Homo sapiens: one gene and its partners. The protein of the gene in region 2 purifies or fractionates together with the protein of the main gene of each other region. This does not show direct contact. Each region holds a gene or a part of one and is shown on either strand. Other genes may lie near its edges. The genes, in order: COQ8B, SHC2, VWA8, RSAD1, GATB, PSMA8 and PTCD1.

The links.
Region 1: the proteins of SHC2 (region 2) and COQ8B purify together in Homo sapiens (affinity purification with mass spectrometry; one large-scale study listed by BioGRID and IntAct). This does not show direct contact.
Region 3: the proteins of SHC2 (region 2) and VWA8 purify together in Homo sapiens (affinity purification with mass spectrometry; one large-scale study listed by BioGRID and IntAct). This does not show direct contact.
Region 4: the proteins of SHC2 (region 2) and RSAD1 purify together in Homo sapiens (affinity purification with mass spectrometry; one large-scale study listed by BioGRID and IntAct). This does not show direct contact.
Region 5: the proteins of SHC2 (region 2) and GATB purify together in Homo sapiens (affinity purification with mass spectrometry; one large-scale study listed by BioGRID and IntAct). This does not show direct contact.
Region 6: the proteins of SHC2 (region 2) and PSMA8 purify together in Homo sapiens (affinity purification with mass spectrometry; one large-scale study listed by BioGRID and IntAct). This does not show direct contact.
Region 7: the proteins of SHC2 (region 2) and PTCD1 purify together in Homo sapiens (affinity purification with mass spectrometry; one large-scale study listed by BioGRID and IntAct). This does not show direct contact.

Annotation. Positions count from the first base shown.
Region 1 is NC_000019.10:40,692,887-40,696,386, forward strand, and holds part of COQ8B (atypical kinase COQ8B, mitochondrial), read right to left. Parts: intron 3,169-3,500; coding exon 3,103-3,168; intron 152-3,102; coding exon 65-151; intron 1-64.
Region 2 is NC_000019.10:437,034-440,533, forward strand, and holds part of SHC2 (SHC-transforming protein 2), read right to left. Parts: intron 1,998-3,500; coding exon 1,937-1,997; intron 1,805-1,936; coding exon 1,685-1,804; intron 1-1,684. UniProt on the Homo sapiens protein: Signaling adapter that couples activated growth factor receptors to signaling pathway in neurons. Involved in the signal transduction pathways of neurotrophin-activated Trk receptors in cortical neurons.
Region 3 is NC_000013.11:41,951,110-41,954,609, forward strand, and holds part of VWA8 (von Willebrand factor A domain-containing protein 8 isoform a precursor), read right to left. Parts: intron 1-3,500. UniProt on the Homo sapiens protein: Exhibits ATPase activity in vitro.
Region 4 is NC_000017.11:50,481,860-50,484,166, reverse strand, and holds part of RSAD1 (radical S-adenosyl methionine domain-containing protein 1, mitochondrial precursor), read right to left. Parts: intron 2,077-2,307; coding exon 1,711-2,076; intron 1,525-1,710; coding exon 1,461-1,524; intron 828-1,460; coding exon 680-827; intron 462-679; coding exon 407-461; intron 1-406.
Region 5 is NC_000004.12:151,705,508-151,709,007, forward strand, and holds part of GATB (glutamyl-tRNA(Gln) amidotransferase subunit B, mitochondrial isoform 1 precursor), read right to left. Parts: intron 2,595-3,500; coding exon 2,481-2,594; intron 1-2,480. UniProt on the Homo sapiens protein: Allows the formation of correctly charged Gln-tRNA(Gln) through the transamidation of misacylated Glu-tRNA(Gln) in the mitochondria. The reaction takes place in the presence of glutamine and ATP through an activated gamma-phospho-Glu-tRNA(Gln).
Region 6 is NC_000018.10:26,132,412-26,136,668, reverse strand, and holds the start of PSMA8 (proteasome subunit alpha-type 8), read right to left. Parts: upstream 2,801-4,257; 5' UTR 2,704-2,800; coding exon 2,602-2,703; intron 1-2,601. UniProt on the Homo sapiens protein: Component of the spermatoproteasome, a proteasome specifically found in testis that promotes acetylation-dependent degradation of histones, thereby participating actively to the exchange of histones during spermatogenesis.
Region 7 is NC_000007.14:99,421,799-99,425,298, forward strand, and holds part of PTCD1 (pentatricopeptide repeat-containing protein 1, mitochondrial), read right to left. Parts: coding exon 2,997-3,500; intron 2,160-2,996; coding exon 1,977-2,159; intron 1-1,976. Other genes in the region: ATP5MF-PTCD1 (ATP5J2-PTCD1 fusion protein), read right to left, coding at 1,977-2,159, 2,997-3,500. UniProt on the Homo sapiens protein: Mitochondrial protein implicated in negative regulation of leucine tRNA levels, as well as negative regulation of mitochondria-encoded proteins and COX activity. Also affects the 3'-processing of mitochondrial tRNAs.

The DNA of each region.
Region 1 (3,500 bases), about 40 Mb from region 2:
AAGCAGCCCCCCACTGCACCCCACCAACAGACACCAGCCCCTTTCTCCCCCAGTGTCTCCCCACCTTGGTTTCAAAGCCTGTGAGGAATTTGAGGTCCCTGGACTTCTGCAGGACACAGTCTCTGTCTCCATCAGCTGCAGCCTTCACCACCTGGGGAGACGGGTGGGAGTTAGAGGGACAAAGGCCGGGGCTCAAGGGGGCTCTGGAGAAGAGGAGCTGGAAGCCTGGGCCTCCCATGTACCCACCTCCATTCTCATCTGCCTGGGCCCTCCCTCACCTGGAAGCTTCCTGCTCCCAACTTTGCCTGTCTGTGACTCCCTTAAAGACTCTTCCAGAGCCTGGGAGTGGAGGTGGTTAGGGATCCTGCCCACCTAGAGGGCAATGTGGGGCCTGCCCGGGAACTGCCACAGTGAAACAGTGCAAGAAACAAGTGTCAGGGCTGCTGGTGAGTCCAAACACTCAACTGGACGGGTATGAGCGTGACCCAGAACTGCATCCAAAGTTGCCAGGGGCCATCTCTCTGTCTCCCACACTGGACTTTGAGCCCCGTGAGAGCAAGGATCCCAGTTGGGTTTAGTCGCACGGGGCACAGGGTCTGGTGCTGAGGAGGCCCTGGGTGAACCTTGCTTTAGCAAATGAGCGTGTGGAGCAGAGCAGCTCTCCAGCCATGAGCTCACACACACAGGGCAGGAGTTGTGGGCATGGAGAGATGCCCAGCTGGGGCCAGCTGGCTAGGGTTCCGTCCCAGCTCTGCCACCTGCCGGCCTGTTGGGCCTCCACTTTCTCATCTGTGAAGTGGGGATGCCAAAAGTGCCTTCCTCATGGGGCTGTTGGGAGGATAAAGAAGGTGATGCCTGTGGCCTGCCTGGCGCTGTGTCTCATGCAGGAAGCACCGTAAATACTATAATCTACCATTATTAAGAGGTGGGCACGGGGGTCCCTATTTCACAGAAGGGGAAGCAGACCCGGAGTAGGGAGTGGAACCGGGTCACACCACTCACTACTGGGTTGCCCTTTTTTGTGAGGAGGGGGATTCGGGATTAATTCCATTCCCTCTCTGCTCCCCCTGCCCGAGCATGTCTGGCCATCTGTCAGGCCTGTGGTCCTCAGAAGCCAGGGCTTTTATAAAGTGGCAAAGGCTGCAGGCCTGGGTGGGAGGGGAGGGTGTCAGTGGGGAGAAGAAGGGTCTCAGCTTTGTGCCTCAGTGGCCGGCAGAGAGGGCCCCAAGGGGCCTGTGTGTAAGGGGTTATCACCTCCTCTTCCTGTTCCTGTCTCAGAGGTGGCCCCACCAGTCCCCAGACCAGACCCCTAGACACCTCTGTCCCCAACTTCTAGCCCGTCTGCTCCCATGGACTGCCAGCTGGGCATCTCCCAGCCACCCCTCTGCCCCTCTCCACAGCTGCCCTGAGCTCCCACCCCCAGGCTTAGAGACCACTTCTTATTCAGAGGGAGTTTTCAAATTCTGACTGCATCCCTTCCCTGCTCAAATCTTTTCCACGGCTCCGCAGGGCACCTGGATACAGTACGAGCTGTAGAGCGCAGCCTCTAAAATCCGCAGTGATTTGCTGCAGCCTCGTCACTGTGCTGCCCCCCGACCTGCCCTCCCACTCAGAATGGGAGCTTCCTTTGGGTGCTCTAGGGCCTTACTACTACCAGTGTGGTCCCCATACGGGTAGCCCTGGCCTCACATGGGTGCGTGTCAGAACATAGCATCTTACACCCACCTCCAGACCAGAATCTGCACTTGCACAGGATCACCAGGCTTCACATGCACATCCAAGTCTGAGAAATGCTGCTCTAATGGGACTGTCCCTTATCACTGCCTCGTCTTGGCACATGTTGTCTATCTGAAATACCCTCCGAGCCTTTTCCCAGTTGGCCCCCCTCATCCCTCAGGTCTCAATGCTGACACTCCCTCCTCCGGGAAGCCCTCCTTGGCTCCCCAGGCTGGCTCAGGCTCCTCCTCTGGGCTCACAGTGCCCTGCGCTTCCCCCATCCCAGCCCTGTCCATGCTAGGTCCTCACTGTCGCCTCACTGACTATGAGTTCTGTGAGGAGGGGCCTAGGCTGGGCCCAGGTCACTGCTGTGTCTCCAGCTTTGCCTAGAATAGAGCTGGGCACAGAGGAGGGGTCAGAAAACATTTAGATTGGCTGGGCAGGAGGGCTCATGCCTGTAATCCCAGCACTTTGGGAGGCCAAGGCAGGAGGATCACCTGAGGTCAGCAGTTCGAGACCAGCCTGGGCAACATGGTGAAACCCCATCTCTACTAAAAATACAAAAATTAGCCGGGCGTGGTGGCACATGCCTGTAATCCCAGCTACTCGAGAAGCTGAGGCAGGAGAATCGCTTGAACCCAGGAGGTGGAGGTTGTGGTGAGCCAAGATCGAGCCACTGCACTCCAGCCTGGGCGACAGAGCAAGACTCTGTCTCAATTAAAAAAAAAAAAAAGAAAAGAAAAAAAAGGAAAAGAAAACGTTTAGATTGATGGCTACATGATTAGAGGACCCAGGGCAAATGTCCAATCTCAACAACGAATGAAATGGTATTCTCTGCAGCCTCTAAGACAAACTGACCCCAGTGGGTGGGAGAGACGAGCCAAGTACGTGAGGAAACACCTCCTGTAGACAGAGTTGCCCCCAGGGACACACACCTGGGCTGGACACCAGGGCCCTGGACAGCATGGGGTCTGGAGAGGTGACAAGATGGTCACTGTGGGCCTTTCTCTTAGGAGGGAGCTGGGCAGTGGTTGGAAGCTTGGGCTCTGGACCTGGACCACCTGAATTTGAATCCCAAGTCTGCTGTGATCTTGGGCACGTGACTTAACCCCTCCAGGACCCAGTTACTTCATCTGGCCTAAAACGGGCCTAAAAACGGTCCTTTTCGCATTGTGTTGCTGTGTGGTTTATATCGGTTCCTATACGTAAGCACTAAAGATGGAGCCTGACATATTAAGTGCTTGGTGTGTGCTAGTTGCTACGAGTATTACTATTATTTATTATTTCTTAATTCCAGAAACTGCATTTCGCCTTCTTACTCCTCTGCCTCAGTATATGGCTTGAGCCTCAGCCTTTCAGAGGCCCTGGGGTCTGGGGGAGACTCACCTCGATGTAATGGTCTGTGAACTCTGTCCCAAACTCCCGGCTTGCACCAAAGTCCAGCAGGGTCACCTGGAAGCAAGGAATGGTGAAAGGAATGCTGGGATCCCATTCACACCCTCACTGTCTATTGGGGCAGCCAGGATCTGTCTCCCTCCCCATGACCCTGCCTGCTCCTGCCAGAGTCCCTGCCTGGCTGCCTCACTGGGCTCCTGGCCTCATCTCCCGTTTCCAACCGACCCCCTAGCTGAAGGCTTTTTTTTCTTTTAGTTCTAATTGTTTATGCAATAACAAATTTTAGACCCAGAAAAAAAATCCAGAGAATAATAAAAGATATAGAAAAGTAAAATGAATACTCACAAATCCTGCCACCCAGCCTAAAATATAAAATACTCCCCATCCGG
Region 2 (3,500 bases):
CACACACACACACACCCGAAGCAGCCACGGGAGGGACGGCCCCACACTCCTGACTCCCTTGTCCACGTGCAAGGGCACCTGTGAGTGCATTTGCATGCTTATCTGCATGCTCATTTGTATGCTTGTTTGCCTACTGATCTGCATGCTCGTTTGCATGCTCATCTACTTGCTCGTTTGCGTGGTCATCTGCGTGCTCGTTTGCGAGCTCATCTGCGTGCTCGTTTGCGTGCTCGTCTGCGTGCTCGTCTGTGTGCTCATCTGCGTGCTCGTCTGTGTGCTCATCTGCATGCTCATCTGCGTGCTTGTTTGCATGCTCATCTGTGTGCTTGTTTGTGTGCTCGTCTGCGTGCTTGTTTGCATGCTCATTTGCATGGTCCTGCTTCATTTGCTTCCCGTCACTCAAATCCCTCTAGGCCCCAGTAAGCCCCCGATACCAGCCACGTCCTGAGTCCTCCCTACAGAACATCCACTTCTCAGCCCCCATAGGGACCCTCGAGGCTCTCCCCTTGCCAACCCCGGCCCAGCCAGGAGGGTCTGCTTGGAGCCTCAGTATCCTGTCCATATAGTGGTCAGGGGTCCATGCCTCGCAGGGTGGGGGCAGAGATGGAAATTGCGTGGAAATGGCCCTCAGTCACCCCCCCGCCAGCTCCATCCTTCTCTAGCCTCCTCCCTGGAGCCCCAGCTGCCCCTCACCGCCACCTGCTGCCACCACACCAGCTCAGAGATGCTGTCTCACCCCAAACTCCTCACGATGATCCATGCTAACTTCTCCGACAAGGCGATGCCTCCTCTTTCAGCCACACCTGAGATTCCCCTCCTCACCACCTCCCAGAGCCCTCCAGGAAGTCTCTTCTAGCACCCAGAGCCCAGCACATGCTCAGGACACCCCTCACCTGGCCTCACAATGCTTCCTAAAATCTGTTATTTCCTCTATTTCTGCAATTATAGTTTTTTGTTTTTTGGTTTTTTGAGACAGAGTCTCACTCTGTTGCCCAGGCTGGAGTGCAGTAGTGCAATCTTGGCTCACTGCAACCTCCACTCCCAGGTTCAAGCGATTCTCCTGCCTCAGCCTCCCAAGTAGCTGGGATTACAGGCGCCCACCACCACACCCGGCTAATCTTTGTATTTTTTGTAGAGTCAGCCATGTTGGCCAGGCTGGTCTCGAACTCCTGACCTCAAGTGATCTGCCCACCCCTCAGCCTCCCAAAGTGCTGGGGTTACAGGCGTGAGCCACTGAGCCCGGCCTCACAGTGCTGGGGTTACAGGCGTGAGCAACCAAGCCCGAGCCTGGTCTGCAATTATACTTTTGTTGTTTGTTTCCACTTGAGGACTGATAGCCAGGGTTTATCCCCGCCCCTCCCCAGGCACTGTGGATGTTGGGACGGACCACTCTCTGGGGTGGGGCGTCCTGGCCCCTGCAGGGTGCTGAGCAGCGTCCCTGCCCCCACCCACTCCATGCCAGGAGCGCCCCTGTATCAGGACGGCTCGCCCAGGTGGGAGCCCCTGAGCTGAGCCCCGTGAGGGCAGTGGCTGCACCCCCAGCTCCTGCTCAGCGGGGCCTCGGCTCGTCTTTCTGGATAAACGCCACCTGCTGCCCGCCCCCAGCACCCCACCTGGCTTTGCCTCCTAGGACTCCTGGCCCCTCTGGGGGTCTGGGGACGCCAGGCGAAGAGGGCAGACCCACCTGGCGCGTGGCAGGCACGGAGAGGCTGAGGCCATCAGTGGAGATGTGGATGGAGATGCTCATGCCGGCAAAGCGAAGGTTGCTCTTGCCCAGGACGGACGCCAGGGCCTTGTTGGGGGCCTGAGTTGGGGGCGGAGCACAGCGAGGGCGGCTGTGGGTGGGGGCTGTCGAGGGGCTCCCAGGATGGCCGCAGCGTCCCCACAGCCCCCGACTGCCCCACCAGCCCCACGAGAGACCACAAGCCTCACTCACCTTTTTCTTCCAGGATCCCCGGACGCCAGGCACGGCCTCATGGAGCCGGTTGATGGCTTCCCTGGGGTTGGGAGGAGGGGGCTTAGAGAGTGTGGTGGGGGTGGCCATGGAGGGAGCTGGGGAGGAAGGGGTCAGAGAGGGCGGGGGTCTGGGGAGGGGGCAGGAGCTCAGAGAAGGGCGAGAGAGAGGGGAGAGGAAGGCAGAGAGGGAGGGGTGGGAGAGGATCAGGGGGCCTAAAGTGGGCAGGGAGGGGGCTGGGGAACCTGGGGGAGGAGTGCCCCACAGGACAGGTGCAGCTTGGGCACCAGCCCACTCCACGTGCGTCCTTGCATCCGGCAGAGGCCCGGCCCCCAGCTCTGGCCCCTCTACCACCCTCTTTCCCAGGGACCAGTGTGTCCCTGGCCTCGGCCCACAAGGAAGGCTCGGCATCAGATGTGGGGGTTGGAGCAGCGAGCAGGAGGCCCTGAGCCTGACGCGGGGTCCGTGTCGAGATCCTGTCTGCAGCCTGAGTGGTGGCAGGAGCTGACCCCAAACAAGAGCGCCTCAGACCACTGGTCCCCAGGAGAGGTTAGAAGTCTACAGGGTCCTGAAGGGGCCCCGGAAATGTCGGCGTCACGTGGAGAAACCAGATCCCCCACCCAGGGCATGTGGGAATTTTCACAGCACGGCCACTGTGGAAAACAGCCTGGGGGCTCCTCAAAAGGTTAAAAATTGGCCAGATGCAGCGGCTCCTGCCTGTCATCCTAGCACTGTGGGCCTGACACAAACAAATGCATGCAGGCGCGGCGGCCCCCACCTGTCATCCCAACACTTGGGGAGGCTGAGACGGGCGGATCACCTGAGGTCAGGGGTTCGAGACCGGTCTGACCAACATGGAGAAACCCCGTCTCTACTAAAAACATAAAAACTAGCTGGGTGTGGTGGTGGGCGCCTGTAGTCCCAGCTACTGGGGAGGCTGAGGCAAGAGAAATGCTTGAACCCAGGAGACAGAGGTTGCAGTGAGCCGACACGGTGTCACTGCACTCCAGCCTGGGCAACAGAGTGAGACTCCATCTCAAAAAAAAAAAAAAAAAAGGAGCAAGGCTCTGACCCAGGCCACAGCGCGGACACACCTCGGGAACGCCATGCTCAGTGAGAGACGCCAGACACACGAGGCCACGCAGCGTGTGATCCCATTGCTATGAAATGTCCAGGACAGGCCGATCCACAGAGACAGGGAGGGGATGCGTGGGTGCCGGGGCTGGGGAGGGGACGGGGAGTGGCTGTGATGGGGACGGGGTGTTTTGATGGGGTAATGAGAATGTTCGGAACTAGACAGTGGTGATCGTGTGACTCTGTGAAGAGCCTAAAGTCTCAAACTGTACATTATATCTCACATACGCACGTGTAAACTGTCTCACATGGTTTTTTTAAGTCTATACGAATGGAATCAACCAGTTTTCACAGAAAAAAAGGGTGTCGCTCTCTTCCCTGCTTAAGCCCTGGCCATATCCACAGCCCCTGTGATTGCTTTCCAGACACCGCATAGCATCCTGAGGTCACCGTGTGGAAAACAGAGCAGGGA
Region 3 (3,500 bases), on a different chromosome or scaffold from region 2:
CCCAGTGGCATAAATGCCAAGAACTGGCCAGGTGCAGTGGCTCACGCCTGTAATCCTAGCACTTTGGGAGGCCAAGGCAGGCGGATCACTTGAGGTCAGGAGTTAGAGACCAGCCTGACCAACATGGTAAAACCCCGTCTCTACTAAAAATACAAAAATTAGCTGGGCGTGGTGGTACGTACCTGTAATCCCAGCTACTTGGGAGGCTGAGGCAGGAGAATCGCTTAAAGCCAGGAGGCGGAGGTTGCAGCAAGCCAAGATTACGCCACTGCACTCCAGCCTGGGCAACGGTGCGACACTCCGTCTCAAATAAATAAAAAATAAAAGCCAAGAATTCCTACATGAAATAAGCAAAAGCAGGCAAAAGTTTTCAGTAAGTTCTATACAGTTCTATTTTTTAATGTAACCTTAATTTCCGAGTGATCTTCTAAAGCCGAGGACTAAACTGAATAATCTCTCCCCGCTGTGCTCTCTCTAACAGCAAAATAGGCATGGTGATACCATTTGCATCTAGAATTTCATTTGGAAAGGGCTCAGAGACACTCCAAAAAAGTAGTCGTGCAAAACTCATCTTTCAGCACTGCCAGTTTAAAGCTAGCAAGATACCTTGAACACTAAGGCCTTAAATCATGGTACTAATAACAATAGCCAACATTTGTTGAATGCTTACTACCTTCTAAGTATTTTTTGCATTCTCAAAATAATCCTATGAGACAGAAATTTTACAAATGAGAAAATTTGTAAATCCATAACAGAGTTTTTAACAGATAAAGAAATTTATTACAGGTATGTGGTAAATTGAGAGAGGAAGATAAGGACTACACACAAAGCTAAATCCCTGCTAGGTCCAAAACTGGCAGCCAGAAAAAAGCAAGGCAAAAGATGATGAGGACCAAAATTCAAAAGCCTGCAAAGCTCCTCCATAACCCGTGCACCGCTCCCTTTTCCTCCCCTGTCCAATTAACTCTTTGTCTTCACGCAATCTATCACAGAGATTCTCAAAGCATCAACGTCACCTGGGAACTTGTAAGTCATATAAATCTTCAGGCCCCACCTCAGACCTACTGAATTAGAAACCCTAAGGTCCAGCAATCGGTGTTACAATGAGCCCTCCAGATGATCTCTAATGCATGTTTGAGATCATTTGGTCGTTTAAGTTCTAACACCCTCAAAAAACAGGTGGTCAGCAGTGCCTCATATAGTACAATCTTAGTTACTGCCAGGTATTGGTTGACTGGTCATCTCGCCCTATTTTCCTTAATGCAGGAAAGAACCTATAAATTAGCTACTTTCTACAGTAGCTTTTCTTTTAAAAGATAAGCTTGCTTACAAATATAAGTGATATTATCTACTGGCTTTTATTACAGAGTAGTTTCAAGAATTATAGTTACAGTATTTTCAAATAGGATGTCTTTACAAATGTTATTTCACTTCCTGAAAAGACTGTAATTATTTGGCCTCCTGACAAAATGATACTGAGTAATTAATCTGAACATAAGAAAAACGTTTTCAGGCACAGGTTCTCATTACAAACATTCCCTGAGTGTTAGAGCTGACCGACATCATCCTTCTAATAAATAATCTAGAAAAAGGGCAGACTATACAAATTCATGGTAACTTGACAATTGGCTGTCCATTTTTTTTTTAAAAAAAGTAAAATTCATACCTCACATTTCTGAAAGACAGTACATTCAAACTGAGTAACTGAGGAGAGTACAAAAAGGGAACTATTTACAAAGGTATAGCAGAGTTTACGGAAACCAAAAAAGATGGTGCAGTATCCTAGGACTAGCAATAACAGAAAGTCATTACCGCCCCTAGGCCTGAAGGGGCAAGGGGAGAGAGCAAGCAGAGAGGGTCACTGTGTTAGGAAGCCTCCTTCTGGGTAACACAGCAAACCCATAATGGTGACCTGGCAGGGAGGGAGCTGGGAAATAAACATGAAGCAAAAACGGACAGAACTAAAAGTGGAAATAGAAAAATGCACAATCACATCTAGATATTAATAGCTTTAAGTAGCTCTCTTGGTAAATAATGGAAGAAGTAGGAAAAAATAAAGAAGGATACAGGATAAGGATAATTTTTTCTCAGCCTTCTGGCAAAGACCAAGTATAGACGTAAAGAAAGAGAAGATTGGAAAACATTATTAATCACTTGGCCTAAATGACATTTATGGAACACTACACCCAACAACAGAATGCATATTCTATTTATTATTTATTTAAGTATTACTGCAAGTATGTTTTTATTTTCTCAACCTATCAACTGAATATTGTATTTTATAAAGCACTTTTTAGTATTGTAATTGGTTCCTCATGATCAGAATGCATATCCTTTTTAAATGCACATGGAACATTCACCAAAATAAATTATAGGCTGGACCATAAAGCAAGTCTCAAGGAATTTAAAGATGAGACCAGGCACAATGGCTGGTGCCTATAATCCCAGCACTTTGGGAGGCCGAGGTGGGTGGATCACCTGAGGCCAGGAGTTTGAGACCAGCCAGACCAACATAGTGAAACCCCATCTCTACTAAAAATACAAAATTAGCTGAGCGTGGTGGCTGGCACATGCCTGTAATCCTAGCTACTTGGGAGACTGAAGCAGGAGAATTGCTTGAACCAGGGAGGCGGAGGTTGCAGTGAGCCGAGATAGCGCCATTGCACTCCAGCCTGGGCAACAAGAGTGAAACTCTGTGTCAAAAAAAATTAAAAAAGAAAATTAAAGGATGGAAGTCATAAAGATTATGTTTTCTTACCACAGTGGAATTAAACTGGAAATCAGTAACAAAAAGGTAACTGGAAAATCCCCAAACATTTGGAAATCAAGCAACAGGCTTCTTAAAAAATCCAAAAAATAAATCACAACGGAAATTGGACTCATTGGGAAACAGGGTGGTGATCAATGAGCCACATCTGCAATAGACAAAAGGGAAAAGTTATGACATTCATATGGACCAGGCATCTGCCATCTCTGCCTCAAACATTGATGTTCTTGGCCATCTTCTGTTACTACACTACACTTTCCTCAGTCATTTAATCCATACCAATGTCCCAACTCTGACCTCTATACAACCTTTTTTTTTTTTTCAGTTAAGGGTACTCTTCAAACACCATATACAACTAATTCTTTAAATGTCTATTTTGGCTCAGATCTCTCTCCTGAGTTTCATACCTGCCAGTAGCCTACTGGAGACTTTACCTAGATATTCCAGAGACAACTCAACAAACACACAGAAACAGAATTCTATATTGTCCATTGTGTGCGCCTAACCACCTCTAACCAGCTCCACCTCTTGTATTCCTATCTCAGTGACTAACACTTTATCTCCTCAGCCTAGAAGACCTTCCACATCTCTCTCACACCACTTGCCCTCTACACAACTACTACTGAAATATCTTCATCTCCCCATTGAACCTTCCCTAACTTTTCCTCTAGCACAAATTGATCACTCCATTAGTCTTTCTGCTAGCACAGGATCTGATTTATGCTTCTGTAAT
Region 4 (2,307 bases), on a different chromosome or scaffold from region 2:
GGCTCTGCTTTATCCAGAGCAGCTCTGGATTTGCTTGATAATTATCTACTGTGCTTCCTATGAGAGGTTTCAGTGCTCCCTAAAAACAAGTGGAAACCCTTTATCTATCTATTGCTTCACAGAGCTCAGAAAATTGAGGTTAAGAGAGGTGAAAGGATTTGTGTCCAAGGTTGCAGTAAAATGAGGGCTGGAACTTGGGTCTCTGCAGCCCTGGTCTAGGGTTCTTAGCTATGCACCACTGCTCACTGCTTCTGCCCATCAGGCCTCAGCTGGACCTGGGCCCCACTTCTAGCTGCCAATCTCACAGAAATTGGAGGTATATGTGTGTGGGGGGGGTGGCAGGGAGGGGGCATTGATTCTGCAAGACTTTAGGAGGGAGTGGTGTGCAAGAATCCTAACTCCTTACCTGGTGAGTGATCCCCACATCGGTGCGTAGCCCCAGGGCCAAAACTTCCTCCAGCCTCAAAGAAAAATCACCAAGGAGTCTTAGAGAGGAGGCCTGTGCTCCTCCCATTCTCCAAATTCTACACTGGGATGCATTTAGAGGAGGCTAACAGGGACCATACAGTATGTGGCAAGGCAGGGGCCAGGACAAGACAGGAAATAAAAGATATACAAATAGACATGGTCTTGGGGTGTGGGGATCCTGGAGGAGAGCCCTGTGCCCTTGGATGCTCACAGCTCCAGCCTGCCCAGGGGGACACGCTTCCGGGTGCCATGGCCAAACAGCATCACCTCCTTCATCCAGTTGTCAGGCTCCAGTGTCTGGATCCGAGCCTCCCGGGTGTGGCCTCCAGCCCCCTGGGGCATAAATCGTCCATGGGCCCCTGACAACATCAACAACCATCCCCACATTAATGGCTGTTAATACTATGTGTTTACCAGATTTAAATCATGTGGTCCCTGGAGCAACTGCCTCTAACATACTGGAAATATAAATTATTTTTCTTTTCTTTTCTTTCTTTCTTTCTTTCTTTTTTTTTTTTTTTTTTTTGAGGTGGTGTCTCACTATACTGCCCAGGCTGGTCTTGGACGCCTGGGGTCAAACGATCTTTCCACCTCAGCTTCCCAAGTAGCTCAGATTAGAGGCACATGACACCAGGCCCTTTTTTCTTTTTCTTTTTTTTTTAATCATCTATCCCAAAATGCCAAGACATATAAATTCTTGGGCTCTCCTCTAGCCCTGTCCAATTGGGAATTCTGAGGGTGGGGCCCAGCAGCTTGGGTTTTAACAAGCCCTCCAGGAGATTCTCATACACACTAAAGGCTGAGAACCCTAGTGCAAGGTGCAACATTAAGCCCCTTATAATTCATGCTCAACAGTTCTATAGGGAGGTATTATTTTTTGCCACATTTTACATATGAGAAAATAGAGGCTTGGAGAGGTTAATGTGGCCCAAGTTCACACAGCCACGACATTCCTCTCCTGAGTCACCCTTTCTGTAGTTCACGGGACTCACCAGGCCCAACGCCAAGGTACTGACCACACTGCCAGTAAGTCCAATTGTGGGTACTGAGCGCCCCCTGCGGGGAGGGAGGAAATAGTGCAGAGTGAAGAGGGCAGGCCTCATTTTTAGACTCAGGTAAGGGGCCCCAGGTTAGAATGTCCCACCATCTCGGCCAGGATCCTTCTCTTCAGAAGGTCACAACGCCCTGGTCACACTGCAGTCTGCCCATCCTCCACCTCCAGCCATCAGCCCCAGAACTTACATTCCGGGCAAAGTTGGAGACCTCATACTGGTGGAAGCCAGCCTCCCGAAGGACAGCCCGGCCCCTCTGGTACATCTCAGCTGCGAGCTCCGGGTCAGGGGCTGGAAGGGCACCCCGCTGCACCTGGGCGAAGAGTGCGGTGCCCCGCTCCAGGGACAGCTGGTAGAGGGAGAGGTGGTCATCACAGTGGTGCAGCAGTTCCTGCAGCTGCCCAAGCCACGGCCCCACCTGCTGTGCCGGCAGCCCCAGCATCAAGTCTACAGACACGCGCCCGGGAAAGAGGCGCCGGGCCTCTGCCAGCGTCCGCAGAGCATCGCAGGCCGAGTGCGTCCGTCCCAACAGCCGGAGCTCAGTGTCATCTAGGGACTGGGAAAAGAGGGTGGGTGTAAGCATACCAGCAGCTCAGAGAGAGACAAGAACCCTCCTCCCCATTGTAGACACAGATACAGGGAGAACGCAGCACGTGGCAGGCAGCTGGAAGGCAGGAGGGGGAAGGTCAAGCTGGCACCAAGAGCTGCCATTCACAGAAGGGTCGCTATGTGCCAAGCACCTTTATGTAGTGTCTAATTTAATCTTTGTAACCCTCCAATATTAGTT
Region 5 (3,500 bases), on a different chromosome or scaffold from region 2:
GAGAGATTAAGCAACCCCATGCAGATGACATGACTTGGCAGAAGTGGGGCTGGGCCCAATATCTCGGTCTGAGATTGCTGCCTACCCAGGGCCCTTACCCTGGGAGTCTGGGATGGGCTTCAAAGGCTCTGGTATCCCCAAAATTATACACAAAGTGTGGGTTGTGTGCATATGTGCAGGTTTTGGAGAGAGGGTCCAGCATTTACATTATCTTTTCAGAGGGACCCACGACCCCAAATGATTAAGATCCAAGGACCCATGCCTCAGCATCAAATGAGGGAGGCTGTGGGAATCAAAACACAACCACAATTGCTAAGCTGTTGCTGCTTTTTTTTTCTTTTTTTGAGAGATGGGGGTCTCACTATGTTTTCCAGCCTAGTCTCAATCTCTTGGTCTCAAACAATCCTCCTGCCTTGGCCTCCCAAAGTGCTGGGATTACAGGCATGAGCCACTAAGCCCAGCCTGCTAAACTGCTTTATGAAAATATCTTGAGCCTCCACCTTAACTCTCCCTCCCACCATGTACTACCTTCCCTTGCCCAAACCTAAACCCTTTTATCTGAGTTGCTAAGAGGCAGCAACAGCAAAACGTGTCAGTTTTTGCTCCCCATCTCTCCCCAACTCCAGTGATCTCTTTGGTTGACACGAGATGATGGCTAAATGGCCTGACATAGGGAGAAAAAGGTGGTGAAAAATCACAGGCTTGGAGAATTGAACCCATAGTAAAGCTTTGGCTCTTCCACTCTGAGTCAGACCACAGGGAGATTTCTCCCTCAGACTGGTCCTCCAAAGAGTTCTTCATAGGACAGGAGAAGGTTAGGGGTCTCCTTCAGAACTCATGGATGACTCTACCTAAAATTGGGCTGCTTTTTTAAGGTTACCATCACCACCTCTTAAAATAACGGGTCCCAGCCCACTACCTACAGGGGGAGGTGGAACTTCCTCCATTTGTTCCAGGCTTCCTCCTCACCAACTTGGCTTATAAGGGTTTTCCCTGACTCAAACCTTTCATGGCTTTGGGAACATGGGCTATGTCCCTTTCCGGATGCAGAACAGTTCACCATCTTTAGTCTGCCTTCATATAGGAGCCTATCCCTTCCCTCTCTGCTCCCATAAGCTATCCGTTTGACCACTTTAATGCCTTTTTCCTGAAGACTGTCTTCATTGAGTGGTTGATTCACTTCAGGTTCAGGACAATAAGGTCTAATACAAGACTAGAATCATCTTTTCTGTACTGTTTCTAATACTTTTCTTGACAAGACCAGGGCTCTATTAAACATTTTGGCTACAGCAAAACTTTGGCAACAGATTCAGTTGTCTTGGTCTCTGTGCACCCTTGAAGGGGTGCACTTCAAACTCCATCCCTCCCTCTTCCTCTCTAGATAGCTTCGGTTTTAAAAAATCTTTTTAGTCCTCTGAGGTCCTCCCCTTGAATTCACAGTTACCTATATCTACGGGACTGCTCAGATATTTATCTTGCTAAACTATTTTAGTTATTATACATTTATCATCAAAGAAATACCCACAGTGTGTGCTCCAGAAAGACTACTACTTCACTGCATGGGCACATAATCTAGCAGTTAAAAAGAATATAAAAAGCAGGAAAACATAATGACCATTTAGGTCAAGCCATGGTCAATCTAAAATGAACAACCATGACCTAGTAAATCTCAAGCTGGTCAGAAAGAAGGTGGTAAATGGTAAAACACAGCCATGATCTTTTGTGGATCCTCTGATAAAGAGGTGGAGTCTAATTTCCCCTCAAGTCTGCTTTGAATTCAATGTAATTTTCTTTTTTTTTCTTAGAGACAGAGTCTTGCTCTGTCGCCCAGGCTAGAGTGCAGTGGCGTGATCACAGCTCACTACAACCTCAAACTCCTGGACTCAAGTGATCCTCCCACCTCAGCCTCTTGAGTAGCTGGGACTACAGGTGCTCACCACCATGCCTGGCTAAATTTTTAATTTTTTATAGAGATGGGGTCTTGCTATGTTGCCCAGGTGGTCTTGAACTCGTGGCCTCAAGCAATCCACCCACCTTGGCTTCCCAAAGTGCTGGGATTATAGGCATGAGGCACTGTGCCTGGCCTCAATCTACTTTGAATAGAACACATTGGAAGTGACACTGTGTGAGGTCTACAGCTTAGGACTCACTTCTGCCTTCATCCTCCCGAAATGCTCCCACTGCCTCATAAGAAAGCCAAGGCTAGGCAAGTGCATGAAGAAAGATCACATGGATGGAGAAGCCCAGCAGACATCAGCATCAAGGCCCCAAGGTATGAGAGCGACTACCATGGACCCTCTGCTTCAGCTGGCCTGCCGGTTTCCCACAGCCACATGAGTGAGCCGACACAGGACCAACAGAACGGACCAGTGAAAACGAAAGTAGTTCTTGTGTAAGCCACTAAGTTTCTGGGTTGTTTGTTACCCAGCAAGAGAGAAACAATAGGAAGAAGGACACTAGGAGCGGCAGCTGGCATTCACCTATGGCTTTGGCCAGGAACCTGATGCTGTTGAGATTCTTCACTTCCGTTCGAACGCCCAAAGGCTCCCCAGGGTGATGCACGGATATATTGGCATCCACTCTCAACTGGCCCTCTGGAAGGAGAGAAGAAAACAACTCCTTAGAAATTCTTTGAGGTGACATAGTCTTTTAAAGGCAGGGAGTGTCAAAGGAAGCAGCATCTAACTCTACCTGCTGTTTAGTTATAGCAGCCTAACTTCAGAGAAGGCACGGTTGGTTCTGAAGTAGGTCGTGGCTGGTACTTCTGGCCACTCGAGAGGGGTTACAGTCCTGAGGCATCTACAGTGTGTGCCTGTACATGTGAACATATACAGATGTGTGTGCTTATGCACATATGGAAGAGAAGTTTTAGATTCGCCAGCTGGAGAGATCTAATTTTTTTGTGCTAAACAAGAAAAACAAAACTATTAAAATGGAGATTGACTCTGCAGTTTTATACTGAAGTTTTTTTTCAAAGTGTCAGAGCTGAGTTGGAGGAAAGGCCTCATATATCTGATAACCCTACACTGCTCTCCATTGGAATGTGGATTTCTAACAGTGATTCCAGGAGATTTAGAGGAGAGTCCTTGAGAATTTGCAGCTCAAGGGCAAGAACTGAAATCTGGGCTTTCCCCCCTCCTCCTTCCTCCAGGTACTGTAATAATCTCTTCCTTCCACAAACATGACTCCGAATCCTTCCTGACTGCTCTAACGATTTGCTACAGCAGACAGACAGCACTGTTACGAAGTCAGGAGTCTGTGGTGGGACTCAGAGAGGTGCTGACCCCATGCTGGGAGGACCTTCTTTGACCCTGGAGGCCCCTCAGATTAGGAGCAACAAGCCCTAAAGAAGCAGGCAATGTGTGGGGAGGACTAAAAGGCTCTTGAGGAAGAGAGAGAGAGAAAAATCCCAAGACAAATAGATGTAGGTAAGAAAGAATCACATTTGGCACCCTACAAAGTAAAGCTCTCAGATTCTCTGTTCCTCGTTTCATTTACAA
Region 6 (4,257 bases), on a different chromosome or scaffold from region 2:
CAATATTCTGTGGTACAGATTATAAATTCAGAAAAGACAAAGATCCAAGATGACTGGAGTGGATCAGAGAAGGCTTCATTATAGAGGACAAGTGTGCAGAGATTGTTAAAGGATAAATAAGATGCAGAGCAGCAGAAAGAAAGGTGTTTTCCCCTTTCCTCTCTCCCCTTTCTGTAGGCAGAAACACATATTAGTGAAACCAAGAAGCTGCCTCCTAAATTAAGAGGGTGGATAGGATTATGGAAGACTTTGATGGCTACATTGTGGAGCTGAGATTTGATAAAGTAGGAAATACAGAGCTAATAACAGTTTGGGGTCACAGAAAGGACAAAATGAGGAATGATAATAAATCTTATCGTTTTCATGGGAATATTGTGAAGGATTCATTTCTTTTCCCTAAGAAGAAAGGTATTACTTCTCCAAAATGTTATTTAAACAAATTTGCATTTACAGAAAAGGGAACTGAAGCAAAAAGAAAACAAGCCTCTTGTCTCCTTTCATGCTATAAGATAATCATCAACAAGGAAGTAGAACACAAAGCCTTTAATTGTGGCCCATATAATTTTTATATTACTAAATAGTATCACATCTACATACTGGTCAAAACTGGTCAACCTTGGCTTATTTGTAACTCATAATATCAATTTTCACTTCTAGACAGAATATTTTGTGACATATTTTAATAATCAAGTGCCATTAAAAAACTTTACCCTATGTAAAAGGTCACAGCACCCTCAAGGAAACACAATGAATAACTCCATGCAAACATGCAAATTATAATTTCAGAATTCTGAGACAAAAGTGTCTCATTCTTCCAATGTATCTTTAAAAATGCCCACTATAGGTATTTTTATATCCTTACCCTTTTACCGCTTATTACAAAGGAACCATCAATCAGTTCTACAGCACTCTTAAAACATGTTAAATGAGCCAATGTGGTTTCTTATTACACCCTAGTCTTCTCCTATTACTCCCTTTATTTTAGGCTCTAAAACTTGGCCATTAGTTTCTAACCATATGCTACATGCTATGCTGGGGATTATATAACTTTTTGTTTTTATCAAAATGGTACCCTTTTGGTTTAAGCTACATCAGGCTTTCCTTAAATTTATAATTCTAAAAAAATTACTTGCAAAACAGAAGCAAAACTAGTGGGCCCAATTAAATAGAAAAATACTTTTAAAACGATTCTTCTTCTAGTGTTTTTTTTTTACCACTTACATCTGTTAGATTTATAATGAAAGTGAATTATTTCCTTCTTTAACAAAGAAAGTCAGAAAATATAGACACTGCTAGACTTAGAAACGTACTGTGTATTCTCATAGCTACTGTCTCAATTTCCAAAGTACACAACAAACATGCTCATGAAATTGAGAGAATAAAAATATCCGATCCTTTGAATTCATAGGCTAGGCCTTAGAAGATTTGGGGTAATAGATCTTGTGTCACTAGGGCACTTTTGTCCTCTTTAATTTTTATAAATCACTAAAATTATTGAACGTAGTTAAAACTTGGCAGCAGTATTACTCCTACCCTGAGTATTTTTTAAGTTTTTCAGTAATGTGGATACATAAATCTAAGGTAGGGTGTAATCTCTCAAGGAACTTCCAGCATTATTTTTTAAGTGGCCAAAAAAGTGGAAGTTCTTGGACTTTTGAGCCTCTACAAGGCTGGGAAATATTGGGACAATTTTGGGATTTTTTTTTTTTTTCCCGAGACGGAGTTTCGCTTTTGTTGCCCAGGCTGGAGTGCAATGGCACGATCTCGGCTCACCGCAACCTCTGCCTCCCAGGTTCAAGCGATTCTCCCGCCTCAGCCTCCCGAGTAGCTGGGATTACAGGCATGCGCCACCACGCCTGGCTAATTTTGTATTTTTAGTAGAGACGGAGTTTCTCCATGTTGGTCAGGCTGGTCTCAAACTCCCGACCTCAGGTGATCCGCCCTCCTGGGCCTTCCAAAGTGCTGGGATTACAGGTGTGAGCCACTGCGCCCAGCAATTTTGGGATATTTTTAACGCGTGTGTTTGAACTGTGTTTTTAATCATTTCTTCATCAACAAAAGTTTAATTTTATATTGATTTAGTCCGTATTTGGGGAGCAGGTGTGGCCAACTTTTATTTTTTATTGTAACTGTTATTAAAAAACAGTTCCCAACATGAAGCAACTGTTAACTTTTCCAGGGGTCTCTGAACTACCAAGGAACTGGACCACGAGCGTTCAATAGGTAGGCTGTTACAGATTAGAAGCTTTCCCTATTGTCAATCACATCATTAACGTCCCTACACACACACACACACACACAGAGACACACACACACACACACACACACCCACACACACACCCTAGTTTTGCGTCTGTAGCTACCATGAAACAGAGGCAGTTGAACAGCAGAGATAGGGGAAATCTACTAACTTTTACTCTGCCCACTTCCGGCCCAAATCTAGAAGTCTGTCTCCCTAAATAAAAAGAACAAAGTAATTTTCACAAGTGTGGGAATCTCCTCTCTTGAGCTCCTAGGATGGAAAGGTGGGCTGGGGCAGCAGGGTAACGATGGCCTGACAGGTCAGAGCGGGGAATAGTCCGGTAATAGTTGCTTCCTCACCGCGGTGGATCCTTTCTTCACCGCTTCCTGGGCATATTCAACTTGAAAAAGGTGTCCGTCTGGGGAGAAGACAGTGATCGCCCTGTCATATCGAGACGCCATCGCACAGGACTACAAGGGCTTGCCACCGAGCTTCCCGCTGCTGCAGCTGAGGCAAGCGGGGAGCCGCCGCCAACACAGCGTGCTACCGCCCGGAAGCGCTTCCACACGCGCCTCAAGCTGCCTCCCGGAAGTCCCCGCGCCCGCGCTTCGGCTGCTTCACGGAAGTCCTTGCTCCTTTGGCTGCCTGCGGATGTCCTCGCGCTTGCCAGCCTTTGTCACCCAAGCAGTGCCTGTGAGTTGACGGCATTCTTCCCTTACCCTTCATGTCTGACGCATAGCGCATATCTCCATTTCCCCACTACCGTGTTGCCCCAGGGATGGTGTCACGGCACTCGAGTTATAAAAATAATATCAAAGATTAGGGCTTAAAAATGAGGTCTTCAAATATCAGATATTTTTGTTATCGCATACATGTTGGAGAAACTGTGGTAAGTTAAATATCAGTCCCTTCCCTTTGGTTTCAAATTCTAAATTTCCTACTTTTTCTTTCTCTCTCTCAGGTTAACTCTTGTTATTTGAACCGAAGGAAAGAAAGCAAACTTCAAAATATTGTTGCTTCTGATATTTTCTGCCTTGTGAGCAAAATAGAGCAGATGAGCAAATGGTCCGTTAAATAAAGCAAATAGTCCATCAAACTAAGCTAATGATGAGAATTAAGATAATGTTCTTTTTTTTGTTTTGTTTTGTTTTTTGTTTTTTGAGACGGAGTCTCGCTCTGTCGCCCAGGCTGGAGTGCAGTGGTGCAATCTCGGCTCACTGCAAGCTCCACCTCCCGGGTTCACGCCATTCTCCTGCCTCAGCCTCCGGAGCAGCTGGGACTACAGGCGCCCGCCACCACGCCCGGCTAATTTTTTATATTTTTAGTAGAGACTGGGTTTCACCGTGTTAGCCAGGATGGTCTTGATCTCCTGACCTCGTGATCCGCCTGCCTCGGCCTCCCAAAGTGCTGGGATTACAGGCGTGAGCCACCGCGCCCGGCCCAGATAATATTCTTTTAATTGGAGAAATTTTGTAAAAGCCCAAAGTATGAGACTTAAAAGATGTCTGGAAATTTAGCTATAGCAGAAACTCTTTACAACTTGCTACATTACTAACTATGAAACAACTCTGTCGCTTTCTCCTTATCAATAAAATGGGAATATTAAAAAATCTGCAGCAGAGTATTCTGAGCTTAATATGTGTTTATGGGCATAATTACATAAAATGGTGCCTGGTGGGCAGTAATAGCCAGGTAAGTTTAGCTATTATTGCTTTCCATGTGTTGTTTAATATATGCAGTTTTCCACTGGGGAGGATCTTAAAGTTGGTGAAATCAACTTTAACCAAAAAAAAGAAAAAAAGAATAATTTCCTCAAAAGAGGAAAAATTTGATTCCCTGAATTCCAAATACTTAAATCAGAATTTTAATTGACTTAAACAATTTATTTAATTATTAATACTTTTTTTTTTAACGTAGGGACTTGGTTTCCCTATGTTGCCCAGGCTGGTCTCAAACTCCTGGTCTCAAGCAATCCTCCTGCCTTGGCATCCGAAAGTACTGCGATTACAGGTGTG
Region 7 (3,500 bases), on a different chromosome or scaffold from region 2:
GAGGGTCCTGACTTTATAATTATGCAAAAGTGATATACATTCAGTAGAAACTAACCCCGCACAAAGTCGATCCTTACAGAGTTACATCCTGATAAAACCATTGCAAAGTTGAAAAATCCTGTGTAGAATCATCTTTAAGTCAGGGACATCTGTCTGTGACTTAAATATGATATGCTTTAGGTCTATGATAGTCTTGTGACTGTCGAGTTGAACCCCTAGTGAGCCCTACGCCAGAGGGAAGAGACAATCCACTAGGAAGATATGCACAACATGTGATCAACAAAAAACCAGTACCCAGAATATATAAAAAACCCTGGAATCAATGAGAAAAGGCTTGCAACCAACAGTTCAAAGCACAGACACAGTTCAAAAATGCCCAGCTATGCCTTCAGCCAGACACAATTTCCATTGCTGTCCCACCTATTTGTAGGAAGCCCTCAAAATGGCATTCAGGCGTGACACCTGCACGGCGTTCCTGACCCCGCACCCTCTAGCTGTGTGTGTCCCTGCCCATTTACTTGTTTCCGCCCCATCCGGGCTGTGCTTCAAGCCATAGTGGCTCTCGATGCTCCGGAGATGCTCAGCACAGAGTGTGATTCGATGGACCCAAAAGCCAAACCCCAGAGCCTGATAGCCTCAGAACAGCAGGGAGAGGCTGTGGCCGTGACAAAGCAGATTCCATGACTCTGCCCTGCTCCTGCTGATACAGGAGGTTGAAAGAAATTATTTAGGCAGATAATAAGGGCAACAGAGTCCTTGGCGAAATTTCCCTTTTAATAAAAAGCAGCCCCCAAATAATTTCTTTTCTAACAAAGAGCAGCCTGAAAAATCGAGCTGCAGACATAGATAAGCAAACTGGAAGCTTGCAGGGGTAAATGCTGGCGGCTGTGCCAACAGAAAAGGGCTACCTGGGAGCCAGATATGTTCAACGTGGGGGCCCCATCTTCCCTTCTTTGTTGCCATGTGTACAGTAAAGAACCAGGCAACATGGCGATGGCCACCTGTCTGCATAATAAAAGGTTAGGGTGGGGCACCAGCTTTTATACATGCTATGTAAATGGCACACCTGGTCCAACTAATCTTTTGCGTCCTCTGTAAATCAGACACCACCTCCCCAAGCTCATCTACAAAACCTCTGCATTACACTATGGAAGTGGCAACCCACTTCTCTGGCACCTCTCTCTGCAAGGAGAGAGCTCTTCTCTTTTTTTTTTTTTCACCACCACACCGGGCGAGAGCTCTTCTTTCTTTCGCCTATTAAACTTCAGCTCTTAACCTCTTTTTTTTTTTTTTGAGACCAAGTCTCCATCTATCGCCCAGGCTGGAGTGCAGTGGCGCGATCTTGGCTCACAACAAATCTCAGGTATTCACCCCAGACAATGACACCACTTCACTGCCTGCCCAGTCCCTGAGCAAGCGACAACCTGTTTGGAGTACCCAGCAACGTGCAGGTGCTGGGGACCCAGATGAGCACAGCAGACAGCCTCTGCCTCCAGAAGCCTGATACAGGGAAGGCCAGGGCTGCCCATGAGCACATGATCCAAGACTGTAGGACACGGCATAAAGGAACAGAGTGGGAAGGGGGAGGGGAGACTTTCATCCCAGGTCAGAGCGGCAGCCAGCTGGGCATGTCTGAGGGCCACTTAAGCAGAGACCTCCAGGAAAAGTGGGTGCCACCTGAGGCAGCGGGAACACCAATCCCGAAGCAGGCAAGAGGTTGGTGGCCTCTGCGAACTGACAGAAGGCCACTGGGACAGACAGAGAAAGCAAACGCAAGGCTGAGACATGAGATGAGCCACGCAGACAGGGACTCGCAGGCTGTGGTCTACAGACTTGGGTACTGCTCCTAAGGGAAGCTGCTGGACAGTTTCAAGCATGGCAACACAATCCCAAGGGCCAGAACCGGGGTTGGGTGGTGGGGGGAGGGGGTAGCAATGGTGAAGGAGCTGATGAGCTTTTGAGCTTGGGGCACACACCCGGTCAAAGGTGGGAGGGTACTGGGCTGCAAACTCCAGCTGGCGGATGACCACTTCGTTCACCGGGACCCTGTTCTGCTTCATGTCCTTCAAGATGCTGATGAGATAGGTGTAGTTCAGCTTCCTGATGGCCGCGTTGATGAGGGCACTGTAGATGTGAGTGTTGGGGGTCACCTGGGACTTCTAGAACACAGGGACATCGTAGAATCAAGATGATGGCAGCCATTGGGACCCAGCAGCTCCCACCCTCTGTCAATCAAGCTGGCTCCCGGGACCAGCGGCCAGGGCCAGCAAGGCAAACTTGGCAGCAACAATGTGCTGAATATCCCTCTCCAGCAGGAAAGCCAAGCCCAGCCCCTCTGCTCAGCCCTAAAGAAGCTGCGGAAAAGGACGCTCGTGCTGCTCTCAGACACCGACTGACTCAGGCAGAAAATGATGTGGGAGACACCACCTCCTTGCTCCCTGGGGTGGGCTTCCTGTGACGCACGGTCACCAGGTGGTGGTTGGCCTAGAAAAGTGCAAGCCTTGGCTGGGTGAGCCCGGTAGGGTCCAGGAAAACAGCCAGAGGATGATGGACCTGGGGACACCGACAACCCAGGACGCAGCCTCTGCTGTGGTCGGATGAAATCCACGCAGCACTTCCAATGGGGGTTAGGTGGGAGGCACAGACCTCGGGGGCTTTGAAAACTGCCCACGGCCCCTCAGGAATTCTGAGAATCCCTGCCATACCTCTAGAGTGTTGGGGCCGAGGCCTGTGCCCAGCCCTGTGTCAACCCACGGCCACCTTCTTCCGGATGGGAACATCCGTGTGTCTCTACGCCCAGCCCTGAAGCACTCACTGGGGTCTGCTTCCCCCAAAATGGGACCAAAGACCAGAAGGTCATTGACCCCACTCTCTTTGCCCCATGCACAGTTCATCCTCTCCAGGTGGGGGGTCTGCAGACCCCTCAAACTTTCCTCCTGAGCTGCAGAGTGCTCCTGAGCACCATGGGTGTCCTGCCCAGGCCCGAGTCCACTCACCTTCATGTCTGTGAGAAGCTGTAGACCGTCCTTCGGCCTGTGGCACCCGATGGCCAGGTTGCAGAATGTCTGCAGGTTGGGGACGAGGCCCCTCTTTGCCAGGACCGGCAACAGCGCCTTGGCCCCCTCCAGGTCTCCCAGCTTGCTCTTCTTTCTCACCAGCGTGTTAAAGAATGTCAGGTCGGCCTCTACCTGGTGCTCATCCAGGAGGGCCAGCAGCAAGGACTCTGCAGGACTCCCGGACTCCACCACCTCGGCCAGTAGCGTGAGGGTCCTGATGTCGGGCTGCTGCCTGTGCTCTGCCATCTTGCTCAGGAAGCCCTCCAGGCCCCCTATCAAGGCCAGCCGGTCAGCTGGGGTGGTCACCGTTCCAAAGGAGACCACTGTAGGGGGAACGGCCCCGGGGGTCAGGAGGTTGACTTCCAGCTCCACGGGAGGTGGCTTCAGGGCCACTGCGGTGAGGGCTGCTGTGTGGCTGGGCTCTGCCTTAGTATCCACCTCTGG